Regions from separate parts of the Homo sapiens genome. Here all the other regions are linked to region 1. Evidence: fine-mapped expression QTL. A gene starts in region 1. Each other region holds a variant in brackets. All regions are shown on one strand. Distances are between the middles of the regions. Region 1 holds the start of AQP3 (aquaporin 3 (Gill blood group)). Region 2 has its middle 22 kb from the start of AQP3. Region 3 overlaps LOC105376020 (a long non-coding RNA gene).

Region 1 (6,700 bases):
ATCACTTGAAAATGGGAGGCAGATGTTGCAGTGAGCCAAGATTGCGCCACTGCACTTCAGCCTGGGCGACAGAGCGGGACTCCATCTCAAAAAAAAAAAAAAAAGAGTTGAAAAGAAAAGCTCATGTGGTGGTGGTAGTGGTGGCAATGGGCGGCATAAATAAATAGGGAGGAGACCAGAAGTGAGGTTGAATCCACTTCTCCTGAGTCCAGGATGCCAGAGCCCCAGCCTTCACCATGTCCCCCTCAACAACCTCCCCTTCCTTTACCTGTCCCTGTCCCAGCGTCTCCTCTCTCCACCCATGACCTCTCTGCTCTCAGGGGTCCAGATTCCCCACTCAGATTTGGAGGTCCTACAGACAGGGATCTGTGTGGCTCCTCTCACTATCCCCAGCCCGGGACCCAGGGCTGTAGAAATGGGGAGATCGGTTCTAAACTTTCTGCCAAAAATGGGGGAACTAAAAGAGACTAAGAGCCCTGGTGTTCTACAAATATAGAACATACTGGAGCCAGCTGTGGTGGCTCACACCTGTAATCCCAGCACTTTGGAGGCTGAGATGGGAGGATCTTGAACCCAGGAGTTTGAGAACAGCCTGGGCAACATAGTGAGACTTTGTCTCTATTTAAAAAAGAAAAAGAACGTACTATGTCTGTTCCCCTTGTTCAAGCCTGAAAATACTTCTGCAGCAGCTGTAAAGCATTGTTGCCCTGAGCCCCCTGAGTGTCCCTCAAAGCTGCTCCAATGCCTTGCCCTGGTCTCCTCTCCCACCTGCCCATAACTAAAGGTTTTATGCCCACAGAGCAGGCAGTTTCCAGGACCTGTGCTACAGACCTTGTTTATTCTGACGGGTCAGTGCCTGTTGTACTGGATAGTTAAGCATTTTGATTATCATCCCAGAAAGACCAAGAGATAACGGAGAAGCCAGCGGCAATGACATGGGGCAAAGGTGTGCAGGCAGGTGAGAGCAAAGATCAGAGATTGCAGGTGTATGTGTGAGGAGGGGTGGTGGGAGACAGGCACGTGAGGGTCTGAGGCGCCCTGCCCTGCTTGGGAGGCCCTGGCAGCAGCTCCTTGCCTGCCAAAGGCTCAGACCTGGCTCCATCCCAGGACGCCTTGGAGGGAGGAGCTGTCAGAGCCAGTTCCACCACCTTGGGGCTAATCTTCCTCTTCCTCCCCCAACCCCTGCCCTGAGTTCTCGGCCAGCACCGCCCCCTGCCCTCACACCAGGTATCTCAGAGAAAGGGGCTTTCCTCACCCCAAAGCCAACCCTGATTCTGCCACTGCAGGCCTAGGCTCCCAACACGCAGGTAGGCAGGCAGGCACTCACCCACTACAAAGGGATCCCCAGGCCTGCCCCTCCAGTTCATGCAGTCCTTGAAGTTCTGCTTCTCACTGATATCCAATACCTCACATCCATCTGAGTCTGCAACCCTTCCCCTAAAATTTAACACTCTTCTTTTGTGGTCTGGGATAAGCCTGATGATCCTGGGGCTCAGTGGGAGGACTAACGGCTCCTTTGTGAGAGAGTGAACTGAGACTTGGGAGGGAATGAGGAGGCCCCTCTAGGAAAATAGAAGACATCATCCTCCCCTAGCCTGGCTGCTCTAAAACAGGTGGCTGGACTCAGGACTCCGATAGGAGTGAGGGCTCCGAGGCAGGAGAGTGATAAAGGCCACCTCCTATTGCCTTCTTGGCACAGGAGAGAGGGGCTAGGGCTGGCTGATAGGACGACTAATCTTATGGGAGGCTGTGGATAAAATGCCCCCTGTGGCTTCCCCACTTCCTATTCTTGGAAGCCAGAAGTGGGTTTCAGCCCTCCTCTGCCCATAGATCCTGATCCTCAACCATTTGGGGATCCCTACTTGCCCTTAGTTAGGCTTCCTAGTCCACAGTGGGCCAGCTGGTCTGTACTACCCAGGGCTGGGGCAGGAACGGAGTAACCCACTCACTGCAATGTAGCAACTGAACACAGAGGAAAACAGGTGTAACCACATGAGCGGCTGAAAAATCAGAGTAACTGGGACAGGAAATAGAACATAACTGGTGGGTCTGCCAGACCTAAGAAGTGCAAACAGAGTCACTCAGAACAAAACCAGGGTGAAACTGGTGTGACCAAGGAGTAACTAGGACTGAGGAGTAACTCAGGCAGGGAAATGCTCACTCAGAGAACCCACAGAGTAACCAAGAGGCCAGGGAGTAACCAGAATGCTTGTCGTCTTCTGCACAGACGCTGACAGCATCTGTCTGGATAACAGACAGGGCCTGGGAGTCGCTGAGCACCAGGTGAGCAACTTTAGACACGCGTCCTCTGTGCCTGGGCCTAGCTTCCTCCCACCCTTCTACCGTCAGAATCTGCCTCCCTTCCCACTTCGCTGTTCGCAGCCCATGTGGCCTGCACCCTCTGCCCCCACTCGTGCAAACTGTCCTCACTCACTTCAACCTTTGGACTTTTTGAGGCTTAATTATTCATTAGAGGCCAGACACCCAGGACCCAAATAACCTAATAATGGCTCATTTGCCTCCGCCCCCTCCCCTACATCTGGGGGCTGGGATTCTGGGAATCTGGAGGGGTGTGGGAGGCAGGGGAAGTGGCTGGCTGTCCCAGACTGCAAGCGTGACCGCTGCCCCCAGCCTGTTGGCTGAGTCACTTGTGGGAGGGTAAACGATCGGCACTATCACTGGGGAGTAACAGCTGTCATTCTGGCAAGAGTCGGAGCTGTCAGAGAGGGGGTTAGAACCGTGGGGAAGAGGACTTTGGAAGTCAGCTTGATCCTCCGCGGTTAAGCGTGGGGGTCACAGCTGGGGAGGTGGGTCCAGGCTACCTTGGAAAACACAGCCCCTTCGGGGAAGTGAGAGTTTGGGGAGTGCAAGGGCTGGAGAGAGAAGGGCTTCCCCGGCTCCCTCCACTCACCACCAGGATGAGGGTCCCCAGGCACTCGGCCAGCGCCTGTCGGAGCAGCCGGTAGCGGATGTGGAGCATCTCCCCGCAGCGGGACACCAGCTCCTTCTGTCGACCCATGGCGGGGCAGGCGGCGGCGCTGTCGGGCGGGCAGGGGTGGCGGGAGGCGGTGGCGCAGCGAGCAGCGGCCTCCAGCGCTGGTGGCTCCCTTTATAGGAGCGCTGGAGACACGGGCCCCGCCCGCCCTGCAGCCCCGCCCTGCAGTCCCGGAGCGCCGAGGAGTGCGCGCCCCCTCGCCCCCGCCCCACCTCGGCTGGGAGGCTGGTGCGGACGCCGGGTGGAGGGAGCTGCGGGCATGGAGTGTGAGGAGCTTTGAGGGACGGGTGGCCTTCGGAGGGCGCTTAAGGGAGGGGACGTCAAGGGGGCTGAGAGGCTTAGGCAGATCTGAGAGCCAATGGTGGGATTATAGGCAGGGTTCAGGGCCATGGCTGGAGAGGATGCAGCTGTCATAGAGACCACCTGCGCCCTGTGATCACCCCACTTCCTTGCGGGCAGGAGGAGACCTGTCAGAAAGAAACTGGCCGCATCTCTCCAGGATGACTGGACCCAACAGATCCTCAGTTCGAGGCAGGAGGAGGAGGCTGCGAGCCCCAAGTGAGAAGCAACACTGTCTCTTCTGTCAGGACAGATAAGGCACCGACCCTTCAAGGGGACAGCTAGTGTCAGAGGGGCAGCAGTCCAGACTCAGGTGGGCACACAGACACACGTGCTGAGTTCCAACCAGACTTCATGGGCCCTTCTCCCTGTGCTATGAGCACGTCGTGTGTCGCATGTCCTGGCCAGCTATGTCCACAGCTGTGTCTACACATGGCGGATGTCCTGTGTGCCTAATTGTACGGCTGGGCATTCCTCGTGGCTGTGCACATGCCTGTTGAACATGGCTAGGTGACCTAGCTTGTCACACGTGTACCTGCGTGCATTGCTCACATGGCTCCAGAGGCTGAGCTGCAGTTGCCCCGACATGCCACATGCCACATGTTTGCCAGCAGGCTGAGTCCCAGCTGTTTTTAACCCTCTCCTCTCCCATCTGACTTACCCCCAGCCAAGGAAGAGTCTGTCTCTTTTTTTTTTTTAGACGGAGTCTCTCTCTGTCGCCTAGGTGGAGTGCAATGGCGTGATCTCGGCTCCCTGCAACCTCCACCTCCCAGGTTCAAGTGATTCTCCTGCTTCAGCCTCCCGATTAGCTGGGATTACAGGTGCACACCACCATGCCCAGCTAATTTTTGTTTTTTTAGTGGAGATGGGGATTCACCATGTTGACCAGGCTGATTTCGAACTCCTGACCACAAGTTATCCACCCGCCTCAGCCTCCCAAAGTGCTGGGATTACAGGCGTGAGCCACTGAGCCCAGCAAGTCTGCCTCTTTAAGCAAACTTAATTATGGGGGAGTCAGCCCTATCTGAGGGGGATCATGGGACAACCTTGCCCTCTCTCTCTTTTTAAAGAGTAGGGTCTTGCTCCATCACCCAGGCTGTGGTGCAATCACAGCTCACTGTAGCCTCGAACTCCTGGGCCCAAGTGATCCTCCCACCTCAGCCTCCAGAATGGATGGGACTATAGGGACTATGTGCCACCATGACACTCAGCTAATTTTTAAAAATCTGTTGTAAAAATGAGGTCTTGCTATGTTGCCCAGGTTAGTCTCAAACTCCTGGCTTTAAACGATCCTCCCACCTCGGCCTCCCGAAGTGCAACCTTGCCCTCTATGCTGCTTTTAATAACAAGGAAACATCTGGTGGCCTGGGAGCAAACAACATGCCCTTAGGCTGAGCTTCTATGGCAGCATTGCCAGAGGAGATCAAAGAAATCATTTTCCAGAGGGACTTAATCCAGGTGGGCTAATGACCCTGAGGACTTGTCCCTTGAGGGACGAATATGAGAAATAAGGGCCCCCGGCTGGGCGTGGTGGCTCACGCCTATAATCCCAGCACTTTGGGAGGCCGAGGCGGGCAGATCACCTGAGGTCAGGAGTTCAAGACCACACTGACCAACATGGTGAAACCCTGTCTCTACTAAAAATACCAAAAATTAGCCGGGCGTGATGGCGGGTGCCTGTAATCTCAGCTGTTCGGGAGGCTGAGGCAGGAGAATCACTTGAACCCAGGAGGCGGAAGTTGCAGTGACCTGAGATCATGCCATTGCACTCCAGCCTGGGCAACAAGAGCCAAACTCCATCTCAAAAAAAAAAAAAAAAAAAAGGGCTCCCACGGTTCATTGAGAAGCGAGCAGGGCTAGTGCAGAGGTTCTTCTCCCAGAGGGACCAAAAGAGAGAAGGGTTAGTCCTGTCGTCCTTGATCAGAAATGTGATCAGCACCAAGAAAGCCCCAGGGGCCACTGGGACCTACAGTCAAACTATGTTAGGTGACAGGACCATTGACATTTCAGGACAGATAGGCATGGACCCTTCAAGTGGACAGGTTGTGTCAGGAGAGGTAGCAGAAGAAGCTAAACAAGCTCTTAAAAACATGGATGATGACTCACTCCAGCCTCTAGCTCATGGGATCAAACAATCCTCCCACCTCAGCCTCTCAAATAGCTGGGACTACAGGCATGCATCACGATGCCCGGCTAATTTTTGTATTGTTTGTAGAGAAGGGGTTTCGCCATGTTGGCCAGGCTGGTCTGGAACTCCCGAGCTCAAGCAATTTGCCCACCTTGGCCTCCTAGAGTGCTTGGATTGTAGGATTATGAGTATTGCTAAACCCATCTCTTTGGGCATCAACCACCTCTGCCACATGCCTGTAATCCCAGCTACTCGGGAGGCTGAGACAGGAGGATCACTTGAACCCAGGAGGCAGAGGTTGCAGTGAGCCAAGATCACCCCACCTGGGTTCAAGCGATTCTCCTGCTTCAGCTTCCCGAGTAGCTGGGATTACAGGCATGCACCACCATGTCCAGCCAATTTTTTTGTTTTTTGTTTTTTGTTTTTTTTAGTAGAGACGGGGTTTCACCACGTTGGCCAGGCTGGTCTCGAACTCCTGACCTCAGGTGATCCACCCGTCTCGGCCTCCCAAAGTGCTGGGATTACAGGCATGATTCACCGTACCTGGCCTAGATAGGCATGTTAAAAAAGAAAAGAAAAGAAAGGAAATAAGGGCTCCCAGTCCCAGAGGTGGTTCATGCCCAAAGAGATGGGTTTAGCATACACATGAAGTAGATTCACATACATGCAGGTGCTTGCGCATACACACACACAAACACACAGACACACACACACACCCTGTGGTTTGCAGTCACACACTTGCCTATAGACACTGAGCTCTGCTCCCATGATCAGGGATCCCATTCACATGAGAGCCTCGCCATGGGCTCACACATATATAGAACCCCCACATGAGGACTCTAATGACCCTTGACCCAGAAAGATGCACCCTACCCTCCAGGCCTCTATAGGCTGGGAGGCCCCGTGGTGAATCAGGGAGCCATCACTGAGTACCTGCCCTCTGGCCCCACTGCCAGCCTGTGACTCAAGACAGAACCATAGACTCCTGGTGCCAGGGCCCAGATCACAGGCTATGGGAGTGGTAGAGCACCCCTGCCATGCTGCCCCCTTTTCCTCCCACCCTATAATATGCATCCAGCCCATCCCTGCCTCAAGTGGAGCTGCAAAGGCAGCACAGGGCAGAAACTGGCAAGGGACTCCTCAACACCGAAAGAAAATAGGGAAACCCAGCCCACAACACCCCATTGTCACCCTGTCCCATCCTGGGTCTGCTGGCATCCAAATCTAGCCTGGGAACC
Region 2 (6,700 bases), 23 kb before region 1:
CCAGCGACTTGGGAGGCTGAGGCAGGAGAATTGCTTGAGCCCAGGAAGGAGAGGTTGCATTAGCCGAGATTGTGCCACTGCACTCCAGCCTGGGTGACAGAGCAAGATCTGTCTAAAATAATAATAATAATAATGGTACTTTCACATAAAACATTTTTTTTTGAGATGGAGTTTCCCTCTTGTTGCCCAGGCTGGAGTGCAATGGTGCAATCTCTGCTCACTGCAAACTCCACCTCCCAGATTCAAGCAATTCTGCCTCAGCCTCCCAAGTAACTGGGATCACAGCCGCGTGCCACCACTCCCGGCCAATTTTTTGTATTTAGTAGAGATGGGGTTTCACCATGTTGGTCAGGCTGGCCTCAAACTCCTGACCTCAGGTGATCCACCTGCCTCAACCTCTTAAAGTACTGGGATTACAGGCATGAGCTACCACGCCCAGCCCCTCGCTGTCGCCAAGGCTGGAGTGCAGTGGTGTGATCTCAGTTCACTTCAGCCTCCACCTCCTGGGTTCAAGCAATTTTTCTGCCTCAGCCCCCTGAGGAGCTGGGATTACAGTCACATGCCACCATGCCTGGCTAATTTTTGTAATTTTAGTAGAGACGAGGTTTCACCATGTTGGCCAGGCTGGTCTCGAACTTCCAACCTTAGGTGACCCACCCGCCTTGGCCTCCTAAAGTGCTGGGATTACAGGTGTGAGCCACCGCACCTGGCCATTTTTGCCTCTCTTTTTTTTATTATAAATGCATAGCTTTTATTCTAAATGTAATAATGCCTACCAAAGAAAATGCGAAAACTACAAGTAAAAACAAATTGCTCACAATTCAGAAATAACATAATGCCTATTAATGCTTTCACTTCTTTTCATCCATTAATCTTTCTAAGTGCTCTACTGACATAATTGAAAATAATTTCCCATAAGCCTGTTGGTATAATGCCCTTTTTAGCTAATGCCATGATGATAGATTATCAACTCCAGAAGTATTATTTTAATAACTAAGAGACAAACCATACTTTATTTAACTACCTTCTGTCACTGTCACTGAGTAGTTTGTTTCCAACTTTTAAATTTTTTATTTTTTTATTCATAAATATACATTTGTATTTCAGTGTTTCAATATTATAAATAACATTGGAATGATCTTTGGGCAAAGGCTTTGTCTGTCTCTGCAATTACTTTCCCAAGGATCATACTCAGAGATGAAATAGCTGAGGAAGGAATATGAGAAATATCCAGGTTTGTTTTAATTTTTAATCCTTTATATATTTACCTTTTTTTTTTTGAGACAGGGTCTTTGTTGCCTAGGCTGGAGTGCAGTGGCACGATCTTGGCTCACTGCAACCTCTGCCTCCCTGATTCAAGCAGTTCTCATACCTCAGCCTCCGGAGTAGCTGGGATTACAGGCATCCGCCACCACGCCTGGCTAATTTTCGTATTTTTTTGTAAAGACAGGGTTTTGTCTTGTTGGCCAGGCTGGTCTTGAATTCCTGACCTCAAGTGATCTGCCCGCCTCGGTCTCCCAAAGTGCTGGGATTACAGGTGTGAACTACCACCCTGCCTATATTTACCTCTTGAATCCATCGATTTTATGGCATGAGGTAAGAATCTAGTTTTTCGGCCGCCCCTACTGGGAGGTGAGGAGCCCCTCTGCCCAGCCAGCCGCCCCGTCCGGGAGGGAGGTGGGGGGGTCAGCCCCCCGCCCGGCCAGCCGCCCCGTCCGGGAGGGAGGTGGGGGGATCAGCCCCCCGCCTGGCCAGCCGCCCCGTCCGGGAGGTGAGGGGCGCCTCTGCCCGGCCGCCCCTACTGGGAAGTGAGGAGCCCCTCTGCCCGGCCAGCCGCCCCATCCGGGAGGGAGGCGGCGGGGGGGGTCGGCCAGCCGCCCCGTCCGGGAGGGGGGTGGAGGGGTCAGCCCCCCGCCCGGCCAGCCGCCCTATCCGGGAGGTGAGGGGCGCCTCTGCCCGGCCGCCCCTACTGGGAAGTGAGGAGCCCCTCTGCCTGGCCAGCCGCCCCGTCCGGGAGGGTGGTGGGGGGTCAGCCCCCCGCCCGGCCAGCCGCCCCATCCGGGAGGTGAGGGGCGCTTCTGCCCGGCCGCCCCTACTGGGAAGTGAGGAGCCCCTCTGCCCGGCCACGACCCCGTCTGGGAGGTGTGCCCAGCGGCTCATTGGGGATGGGCCATGATGACAATGGCGGTTTTGTGGAATAGAAAGGCGGGAAGGGTGGGGAAAAAATTGAGAAATCGGATGGTTGCCGGGTCTGTGTGGATAGAAGTAGACATGGGAGACTTTTCATTTTGTTCTGTACTAAGAAAAATTCTTCTGCCTTGGGATCCTGTTGATCTGTGACCTTATCCCCAACCCTGTGCTCTCTGAAACATGTGCTGTGTCCACTCAGGGTTGAATGGATTAAGGGCGGTGCAAGATGTGCTTTGTTGAACAGATGCTTGAAGGCAGCATGCTCGTTGAGAGTCATCACCACTCCCTAATCTTAAGTACCCAGGGACACAAACACTGCGGAAGGCAGCGGGGTCCTCTGCCTAGGAGAACCAGAGACCTTTGTTCGCTTGTTTGTCTGCTGACCTTCCCTCCACTATTGTCCTATGACCCTGCCAAATCCCCTTCTGCGAGAAACACCCAAGAATGATCAATTAAAAAAAAAAAAACAAAAAAACAAATATTTACGTATGATAATGAGAAGAACACTGTCCTAGATGGCTGAAATGCTAATAGTCTTTAATTCACTATTTTCTTATTCTGACTGTTGCAAAGATTTGTAGTTTTATTGATGATTCTCACTCATGTTCTAAAATAGGAGTTGGCAAACTATTGGCTGCCTGTGTTTATGAATAAAGTTTTCCTAGAACACAACAACAAAAAAAAAACAAACAAAAAAAAAAAAGAATCTAGTTTTTGCTTTCCAGAGGTGAGAAGAAGGGGTCTTCTTCAGGAACCCCGAGCCCCATCCTCTTAGCCCTCAGTTTATGTTTTTTTTTTATTCTTTATTTTTTTGATTCTTTTTTTTTTTTTTTTGAGACGGAGTATCGCTGTGTCGCCCAGGCTGGAGTGCAGTGGCCCGATCTTGGCTCACTGCAACCTCCACCTCCTGGGTTCACGCCATTCTCCTGCCTCAGCCTCCTGAGTAGCTGGGACTACAGGCGTCCACCACCACGCCCGGCTAATTTTTTGTATTTTTAGTAGAGACAGGGTTTCACTGTGTTAGCCAGGATGGTCTCTATCTCCTGACCTCATGATCCGCCCGCCTCGGCCTCCTGAAGTGCTGGGATTACAGGTGTGAGCCACGGCGCCCGGCCTTCCCTCAGTTTCTTGAAACTCCCTTGGAGAACAGAAGATGAAATACAGAGTTGACATGTCATGCCCAGATTCCCTTT[T/G]CCCTAATTACAAGAAAGTGTTTTCCCTGTTCCGTGAGTAACTAACTGCCTTTCTCTAAGTGGCCTCACTCTGATGAGTAACTGAAAATGCACTTCTCTGTTTGAACTTTGTCAGAAGTGTCCGTGCCAAAAAGCTTTGAAATGCTCAAAAGTACATAAAATAGAAAGGGACCGCAAACATAAAACAGGAAACAAACAAGTTAATCAAGTGCTTAGCATAGTGCCCAGCACATATTAAGGACTTGGTAAATGGTATTTATTAACTCAACAGACATTTATGGATTTCCTACTGGAAGTCAGGCACTATGGGGACTTGGCAGTGACCAAAACATAGTTACTGCCCTCCCACAGCGTCCTGCCTGGTGGGCAAGACAGCCTTAAACACATGATTACACGAATGGTGGTTAGTTATAAGTGTTAAGTGTCAAGGTACTGGGGGGCTATCACATCAGGATAAGGGGACACTGATGAATTATAAGGTTACACTGGGGTCGGGCATGGTGGTTCACGCCTGGAATCCCAGCACTTTTGGAAGCCAAGGAGGGCAGATCACCTGAGGTCAGGAGTTTGAGACGAGCCTGGCCAACATGGTGATACCCCGTCTCTACTAAAAATACAAAATTAGCCGGGCATGGTGGTGCATGCCTGTAATCCCAGCTACTCGGGAGGCTGAGGCAGGAGAATCACTTGAACCTGAGAGGTGGAGGTTGCAGTGAGCTGAGATTGGGCCATTGCACTCCAGCCTAGGTGACAGAGCGACGCTCCGTCTCAAAAAAAAAAAACAAAAACACAGTTGGGGTACGGTGGCTCACACCTGTAATCCCAGCACTTTGGGAGGCCGAGGTGGGCAGATCACCTGAGGTCAGGAGTTCGACACCAGCCTGGCCAACATGGTGAAACCCCGTCTCTACTAAAAATACAAAAAAATTAGCTGGGCATGGTGGTGCACACCTGTAATCCCAGCTACTTGGGAGGCTGAGGCAGGAGAATCACTTGAACCCGGGAGGCAGAGGTTGCAGTGAGCCAAGATCTCGCCATTGCACTGCAGCCTGGGGGACAGAGTGAGGCTCTGTCTCAAAAAAAAGGGGATATATTGGGGAATTCTAAAAAGGAAAATAATTGTCATGTTAATAAATGGAGATTTTAGGGCCAGGCTGGGCAGAGGCAACTGCCAGTTGTCATGAGTGCATGCAGAGAAGATTCAGGGCTTCCTGGAAAAGGCTTCTACCTGGTATTTATTTAATACCCTGGGAATAAGTGCCTAGGCCCAAGGCCTAGCCCACCTAGAGGTCAAAATGAAGCATCGCTTGCCAGGGCAGACGGCAAAGCTAAGTGTAGCAAATCCAGGTCAGGAAGCCCAGAGGAGGCCAGAGGCTGGAAAGGCAGGGGCAAAGTCTCAAATGTGGGCACATGTTGAGCATGTCAAAGAGAAAGACACCAAGGGGACCTCAGTGAGGGGCTTGAGATCAGAGGATGTGGATGATGATCGGGAGGAGGCAGAGGTAGGGCAGTAGTGGTTGACTAACAAAGGGGCAGCAGGAGGGTGGTGACAGTCCAGAAGACTTAGAGATGATGGGGACTGAGATAGGTGGTAAGAGCGGGAGACTATGTTGGGGCTGTGGCAGCAAAGGTGACAAGGTGACAGGGTCGGGTGGGGACAGTCAAGGTGACAGGAGAGATGGGAATGAACTAGCAAGTGACAGGTTGGGTTGGAGGTGGTTGACAAAGGGTTGGTCCAGATAGCCACAGGCTTGGGCATGGGGCAGGGGCAGGGATGGTGGCAATGCTCAAGAAGGTAACACGATGATGGGAACTGGGTCAAGTGACAGCGTGGGTAAGAAAGGGGCAGTGGTTGTGATGCAGGGATGATGGTGAGGGTGACAAATGAGTGACAGGGTCAGAGAGGAGTGATGACCATCAAGGTGACCCAGGGGTGACAGGAAGTGTGGGTGGCAATGATGTCTGTGCCAGTAGCAAGTCAGAGACACCCATCTAGCCCCCCTCCCCTGGGCCTGTTTCAACAGCGGAACTGTTTCCTAGGCCGCAGGTCTCATGACTCAGTACCATGTATCAGCCATGCCGTGGATAAGATCTCTAGGTGGAGCCCCAGCCGTGGGGGCAGGCTAGGTGCCTGTGTCGGCTGTGCCCAGGCCCATCGAAGGACCCAGGCATGGAACCTTAATGTCATCTCTGCCTCCTCCCTCCTGGGTCCACATCCACTCCAATCTGGGGTTGGCCACAAACACTTAGCCTCCTTCTCCTTACAGACTACAAAAGTTCTAGCCAGAGCTTTGTCTATTCCACCAGGCTTCTTCCACGGCTGACCCCATTAGAAGTTTCTGGGCCTCTAATTCTTTCTCGTAACTATCCCCTGTGGGGAGAGAGAAAGGAAGGTGGACTTCAAGAGGGTTCTGAATAATCCCATCCATTCATCCCACAAATATTTATTAAACTCCTTGCAAGGTACTAGGGGCTGACTTGCACAACCAGACCTGTGTCCCTGTCTCCATGAAGCTCAGTCTGGAAGAACAATGGCAGCGAATGGCAGCCACCATTGGGACAGTGCTACTTACTTGTAACAGAGTGGGGCAAACTTTTTTTTTTTTTTTTTGAGACAGGATCTCACTCTGTCACCCAGGCTGGAGTACAGGGGTGTGATCATGGCTCACTGCAGCCTTGACCTCCTGGACTCAAGCGATCCTCCTGCCTCAGCCTCCTGAATAGCTGAGGCTACAGGTGTGTGCCACGACACCCGGCTATTATTTTTTATTTTCTGTAGAGACAGGGTCTCACTATGTTGCCCAGACTGGTGCAAACTGCTTTTTAAACCATGAAGAGACCAGGCGCGGTGGCTCACGCCTGTAATCCCAGCACTTTGGGAGGCCGAGGAGGGCGGATCACCCTAGGTCGGGAGTTCGAGACCAGCCTGACCAACGTGAAGAAACCCCATCTCTACTAAAAATACAAAATTAGCCGGGCGTGGTAGCGCATGCCTGTAATCCCAGCTACTCGGGAGGCTGAGGCAGGAGAATCGCTTGAACCCAGGAGGCAGAGGTTGCAGTGAGCCGAGATCATGCCATTGCACTCCAGCCTGGGCAACAAGAGTAAAACTCCATCTCAAAAAACAAAACAAACCAAACCAAAACAAAACACAACCCTGAAGAGAGTGGGTCTCATTAAAGGAAATCTTGGGGACTGTGCCAGTGACCCTTCGGCTAAGCTAAACACTGTATAAAAAGTAATTTAGAGTATAGTGAGCAATCAGGAGAGAGAAAGTAAGGAGGGGGGGATGGGAGGGTAGAGAAAACCAGCAGTGT
Region 3 (6,700 bases), 34 kb before region 1:
GTTCTTATCATTTAGCTCCCAATGCTTTCCATTCTTTTAGATATATGTGCCCTTGGCATTTTTGCCCTTTTGGGCCCCTTCTTCCAGCAAATAATAATAATAGTAATAATTAATTCTATTTTACAACTATTGGTATAAAGACAAATATATTAATTTTTTTTTTTTTTCCGAGACAGGGTTTCACTCCCGTCACCCAGACTGGAGTACAATGGTGCGATCTCAGCTCACTGCAACCTCTGCCTCCTGGGCTTAAGCGATTCTCCTGCCTTGGCCTCCCAAGTAGCTGGGATTACAGGTGCCTGCCACCACTCCTGGCTAATTTTTGTATTTTTTGTAAAGGCGGAGTTTCTCCATGTTGCCCAGGCTAGTCTCAAACTCCTGAGCTCAAGCAATCCACCCGCCTCGGCCTCCCAAATAAGTGGAATTATAGGTGTGAGCCACCACGCCGGCCCTGATGTATCAATATTAAAACATTTTCTTCAGCCTACAAGTTCTTCTTTTTCTTATTTGGATGCAAACTAAAACATTTTGTGGGCCCTTAGATTGAACATTCTCATGGGTCCTGTGCCTCCTGTGCGTCATGGAGAAGGCAGCCCTGCATGGCTCTCACATCCTCTTCCCCCACGCAAATGCTGCCACCTCCCCAGCCTCCATCTCCAGCCCGGAGCTCAAGAACAAGTGGTCCAGCCTCCTCTCTTGTTATCTCGTATGTGTAACAAGCACATTACCTTCACCTGCCCCAACCCAACCTCACCTCCCCACAGTCTGCCCCCTTCCCAAGGGCCTAGCCCAAGGAATGCTCCTCCCCACCACATCTCTGAAGCTTTCCCTCCAGGAGTCACTCAACTACTCCCTCTCTCGTGGCCCCCTCAATCAGCCCCAAATCTAATCTCCAAGAGCCTCTCCACGGGTCTCCCGGTCTGCATCCCCCTTGAAGTAGGAGGCGGGACTTGACTCCAGAGGTGGGGCTTGGACACTGGACCAGATTGAGGACTAGCTAAAACAGGGCTGGAAGCAGCTTTCTAATCAGACATGCGCCCCAATGTGCCATGTTAATTTATCATTGCCATCTCAACACCTGGGAGTTATCACCCCTTTCCATGGCAATGACCCAATGGCCCAAAAGTTACCACCCCTTCCCTAGGAATTTCTGCATAAATTGCCTCTTAATCTGCATACAATTAAAAGTGGGTATAAATATAACTGCAAAACTGCCCTGGGCTGCTGCTCTCCGCCTCTGTATAGCCCTGCTGTGCAGGGGCAGTCATGGAGCTGTAACACTGCCGCTTCAATAAAGCTGTTTTCTTCTACTTCTCTCTGCATTGCCCTTGAGAGGCAAAGCCGAGAACCCTCGCAGGCCAAGCCCCACTTTGGGGCTCACCTCTCCTGCATCACCCTCACTCATTCTCCATTTTACAGCCATTTTTTTCCCCTTTTTGAGACGGAGTCTCGCTCTGTTGCCCAGGCTGGAGTGCAATGGAGCGATCTCAGCTCACTGCATCCTCCACCTCCCAGGTTCAAGAGATTCTTGTGCCTCAGCCTCCCAAGTAGCTGGAATTACAGGCACCCACCACCAGGCCCGGCTAATTTTTGTATTTTTAGTAGAGATGGGGTTTCACCATGTTGGCCAGGCTGGTCTCAAACTGCCTATTTTATTTTATTTTTATTTTTCTGAAATATGTTAAATTCCAGCTACTCTGTCATTTCATTCCTACATTCTTCAGTGTTCCCTCTAAAATATAGGAACATTTTCTTAAATAATCAGTGCCATACCTGACAAAATATACAATTCCATAGAATGATCAAATACTTGGAATTGTTTCAAAGTGTCTTTTTGCATTGATTTGTTGGATTGTTTGCATCAGGATCCAAACAAGGTCACACATTACGTTGGGTTAAATGTTCTCTTAAACAAGAGGAATTCCCCTTTCTCCATCATTATTTTTTCATGTCATTGACTTGCTGAATAAATGTAGTCCTGTAAGAGTCCCACATTCTAGATTTGTCTGTGTTTTTTCTTTGTAGTGTCATTCAGCTTTTCCGTCATCCCCTGTATTTCTTTGAGTAAGTGGCTGGGCACAGTGGCCCACACCCCTAATTCCAGCACTGTGGGAGGCCAAGGCAAGTGGATCATTAGAGCCCAGGAGTTCAATGCCAGCCTGGGCAACATGGAGAATTCCAATCTCTACAGAAAACACGAAAATTGCCAGGCGCAGTGGCTCACACCTGTAATCCCAGCACTTTGGGAGGCCGGGGCAGGCGGATCATGAGGTCAGGAGATCGAGACCATCCTGGCTAACATGGTGAAACCCCATCTCCACTAAAAATACAAAAAATTAGCTGGGCGTGGTGGTGGGCGCCTGTAGTCCCAGCTACTCAGGAGGCTGAGGCAGGAGAATGGCGTGAACCCGGGAGGCGGAGCTTGCAGTGAGCCAAGATCACACCACTGCACTCCAGCCTGGGCGACAGAGCGAGACTCCATCTCAAAGGAAAAAAATTAGCCAGGCATGGTGGCATGCACCTGTAGTCCCAGCTACTCAGGAGCCTGAGGCAGCAGGATCACTTGAACCTGGGAAGTCAAGGCTGCAGTGAGCCATGTCTGTGCCATTGAGCAAGTCCCTGTCTCAAAAAAAAAAGAAAAAAAAAAAGAGAAAGAAATAAAAAAAAAATATGAGAAGTCAGCTCTGGGCTGGGCGCAGTGGCTCACACCTGTAATCCCAGCACTTTAGGAAACCAAGGCAGGAGGATCGTCTGAGGTCAGGAGTTTGAGACCAGCCTGGCTAACATGATGAAACTCCGTCTCTATTAAAAATACAAAAATTAACTGGGCGTGGTGGTGCACGCCTGTAGTCCTAGCCACTGGGGAAGCTGAGGCAGGAGAATCACTTGAACCCAGGTGGCAGAGATTGCAGTGAGCGAAGATTGCACCACTGCACTCCAGCCTGGGCAACAGAACAAGACTCTGCCTCAAAAACAAAAAAAAGTGGCCAGGTGTGGTGGCTCACTCCTGTAATCCCAGCACTTTGGGAAGCTGAGGCGAGAGGATCACCTGAGGTCAGGAGTTCGAGACCAACCTGGCCAACACGGTGAAACCCCGTCTCTACTAAAAATACAAAAAAATTAGCCAGGTGGGGTGGTGGGTGCCTGAGTAGTCCCAGCTACTCAGGAGGCTGAGTCACAAGAATTGCTTGAACCTGGGAGGCAGAAGTTGCAGTGAGCCAAGATTGTGCCACTGCACTCCAGCCTGGGTGGCAGATCAAGACTCTGTCTCAAAAAAAAAAAAAAAAAAAAAAAAGAGCTCTAATGGTGTATGGTTTATTTATTTTTTATTAATTTTATTTATTTATTTATTTTGAGACAGCGTCTCACTCTGTCACCCAGGCTGGAGTGCAGTGGTGTGATCTCAGCTCACTGCAAGCTCTGCCTCCCGGGTTCACGCCACTCTCCTGCCTCAGCCTCCTGAGTAGCTGGGACTACAGGCACCCACCGCCATGCCTGGCTAATTTTTTTGTATTTTTAGTAGAGACAGGGTTTCACCGTGTTAGCCAGGATGGTCTCGATCTCCTGACCTCATGATCCGCCCGTCTTGGCCTCCCAAAGTGCTGGGATTACAGGCGTGAGCCAACACACCCTGCCTGGCTTTGTTTATTTTTTTGAGACAGTCTCGCTCTGTTGCCCAGGCTGCAATGCAGTGGCGTGAATGTTGCTCACTGCAGCCTTGACTTCCCGGGTTCAAGTGATTCTCTCAGCTGGGACGACAGGCGCATGCCACCATGCCACGCTAATTTTTGTATTTTTTGTAGAGATGGGGTCTCGCCATGTACCCAGGCTGGTCTCGAACTCCTGGGCTCAAGCAACCCACCCACCTCGGCCATCCAAAGTGCTGGGACTACAGGCACGAGCCACCGCGCCCGGTCTGGTGTGATTTTATTTAGGTTCAGTCTTGCATGTGGGCTGG[A/G]GCAGCGGGTCCTCTGTGGAGGTGCTGCATGCTTCCTATTTCATCCCATCAGGAGACACGTCATGTCTAGCTGCCCATGCTCAGTGATGCCAACTGCTCAGTGGCTTCAGGGAGTGACAGCCTGACCCCTCCATTGTCACATTCCCCCCGTCCCCCGCATCAGTACTTCGCCTTCTGCTTTTATTCTTTGATTTCTGCCTAAACCCATTTCATAATCTTTCCACAGTAAAGCATTTTAAAGGAAAAGCTCCAAGCAGCAATTTCCTAACCCACAGGAAAGAAAGAGTCTAAAAATGGTAGAGACTCAGGTACCAGGTTAATCGGAGCAGGGAGGAGGCTCAGGATAAGGGACGCATCATGAGAAGGAGGAAGGAGAGACTGAAGTGGTGGCCGGAAGGAGCAGTGGAAAAACCCAGAGACCTCCTGGCCAGGAGCCTGAGTTTGAGGCTGGTTTGAAGTTTCCCTACTCAGGGCCCCACCTGGGTGTGAGTTGTTTATAGCTCAGGCTTTTTAGACAGACAGACCTGAACTTGAATCCAGCTCAGCTTCTTAATCAGCATTGGGTGACTTAAAGCAAGAAATTTAACTGGGCTTCTTCATCTGTAAAATGAAGATATGAATCCTTATCTTGCAGGGTTGTTGGGAGAATGGACTGAGTGGGCAGGGGGCATGGCAAGGGCCTGGTAGAGTAAACTCTCTGGGTGGTGGGTAGGAAGCCCATCTGAGGGAGGGAAACTCTGTACTCCACACCTCCTGTCCTTCTCCTGCCCTAACAGATTCTTGCCTGATGCCAGGGCCAAACTAGAAGTGCTGGGAGTAGAGTATAATATGCTCATTCTGCAGACAGCAAGAGCAATGCTCAGGGACATCCACCTTCCTCTTCAGCCGCTCCAATGGTGTGTCTGGTCTCCCAGCCCTTGCCATTGCAGCCTAGTGGCTTAGCTTTCTGGACTTGAACCCTTGGTCACCCCCTCAGTCTAGGGGCCAGGCTGCCCCAGGCACCCTGCAATTGCCAGCCCAGTTAACAGGCAGCCGACTCACTGAGCGGGTGGGGGTTCCAGGCATGACAGGGCCTTGGGCAGGCTGCCTCCTGGGGACAACTGGCTTGCTGAGCCCGTGACGGGTGGGGCCATTTGATTCCCAGACGATTTCTCCTACACTGGGAACATAGCAGATGCACAATAAATGTTGAGAGAATGGAGCTTTCCCCCACTGAGTGGGAGAGAAACAGTTTGTCAGGTGACTCTGCCTGTGGGGGCGTCCTGGGCATCCCCAGGAATTCACGGCTCCAAGCCCTTGAGCCCTGGGCGAGGGGGTGCGGGGGAAGCACCTGGGGTGGGGCAGTGAGCCGGGAGCTCCTCCTTTCTCCTGTTCCAGCCTGTCTACTCCCGCCCTGCACGCCCCTACCCACAACCCTGGCCCCTAGTTGAGCCTCTCACTCCTTTCACAGCAGCTGAGGCAACCCAGCCAAGAGCCTCAGTGAGATGGGTTTGGGTAAGGTGGAACCTTAACCCCCAGACTCCCAACCTCATCCTGTTTTCAGCACCCATGAGACTGGCTCTAGCACCCCCTGCTGGCAGCCGAAGCTGACTCCTTTAGCCTGAGTCCACTGGAGGTGTCACCCGTGCGTCCCCAACTCCAGTCCCCTCAAGGGCTCCACCCGGCCCAGCCCACATGCCTTTGTTGTGGCTTCCAAGTTTTCTTTTCCACGTCACCTGCGCTGCTTGCTCTCTGGTTTTGTTGACTTTAGTGCTGTCTCTGTTTGCTCTGGCTGAGCCAACAGCCTCAGGATGAAACTCTGAGCCCAGGAAGTGTGAACCTGAGAGGCAGCAGGCTGGGGGTGGGGACGGAGGCAAATGAGAGACAGGGTAAGATCTGAGCTGGTTCCCGGGCTCAGGCTGGAGTTCATGGCAGCTCACTCCAGCAGCAGGGTCGGGGCCCATGGGCAGGGATGGGTGGAAGGATTTTTCCAGCCTCACTGAGAGCAGGTCTTGGCCTGTCACATCACTGTTTTGAAGTTTATTTGGAAGCTCAGCCCCAGAACTCTAATGCCTCACATCTCCAGGAGGTCTGAACCCCTCTGTGGGGCAGTGCAAGTTCCCTGGAGGCTGCGATCTGATTTCAGCCCCTAGTCCTTCAACCGAGCAACACAGGGGACACCACCATCCCCCATAGGAAGCCTCCAGGACCGAGCTTTCCTGACTTTCCGTGCGCCTCCATGAGAATCTGTTACCCAGCAGCCTGGCAAGGTGACCCCACAGGGATTATTGCCCCTCTACAAATTGAGCCCCAGACATGGTAAAGGGACATCTCCAAAGTCACCAAGTGAGAGCTTCCTGGCTCCTAGTCCAGACTCTTTGGCCCTCTTCAAGCATCTCTCAGATCATGGAGTGTGATGGGAAGGCAGCACCAGGCCCCAGGTGCCGGGGCAGGGGCCAACACACCAAGTTGTGGAGTGTGCATACAGTGCCACACAAACCAGGGGCATGCGCAACCTGGGGCTGACGTGCTCACCCCACAGCCCCTCAGACCAGACGCAGCCAGGACCCTCACGTCCCTCCTGCCTGCAGAGGGGGTAAGAGAAAGCAATGACTGAGTGCCCACCTGCCACTCACTGCTCCCAGCCTGCCTGTGTGGCCTGTGGGGTGTAAATGCCGTCTCAGGGTTAGGACAGTGGAACCACCCTGGCCTGCAGCCGGGAGCTTAGGGATAAGGTTAGGGAAGCTGCTGCCGTCACCACAG

What was found. PIP is the estimated chance that this variant, and not a neighbour inherited with it, causes the effect.
Region 2: its variant is fine-mapped to the expression of AQP3 in lung (GTEx, PIP above 0.99). The same link has a PIP of 0.9 or more in pancreatic islets and subcutaneous fat.
Region 3: its variant is fine-mapped to the expression of AQP3 in whole blood (INTERVAL, PIP above 0.99). The same link has a PIP of 0.9 or more in blood mononuclear cells.

Annotation. Positions count from the first base shown.
Region 1 is chr9:33,444,512-33,451,211 of GRCh38, forward strand. It overlaps AQP3 (aquaporin 3 (Gill blood group)), which reads right to left and starts at 3,082. Exons shown (of 6, transcript NM_004925.5): 1 at 2,912-3,082. The coding sequence starts at 3,019. RefSeq lists a silencer at 3,068-3,257.
Region 2 is chr9:33,421,766-33,428,465 of GRCh38, forward strand. No RefSeq gene overlaps it. Among named protein-coding and RNA genes, the nearest start is that of AQP3, 22 kb to the right of the region's middle. The variant T/G (reference allele first, on the strand shown) is at 3,384.
Region 3 is chr9:33,410,064-33,416,763 of GRCh38, forward strand. It overlaps LOC105376020 (a long non-coding RNA gene), which reads left to right. Exons shown (of 3, transcript NR_188543.1): 3 at 177-487. Among named protein-coding and RNA genes, the nearest start is that of AQP7, 11 kb to the left of the region's middle. RefSeq lists enhancers at 4,511-5,042, 5,043-5,573. The variant A/G (reference allele first, on the strand shown) is at 3,959.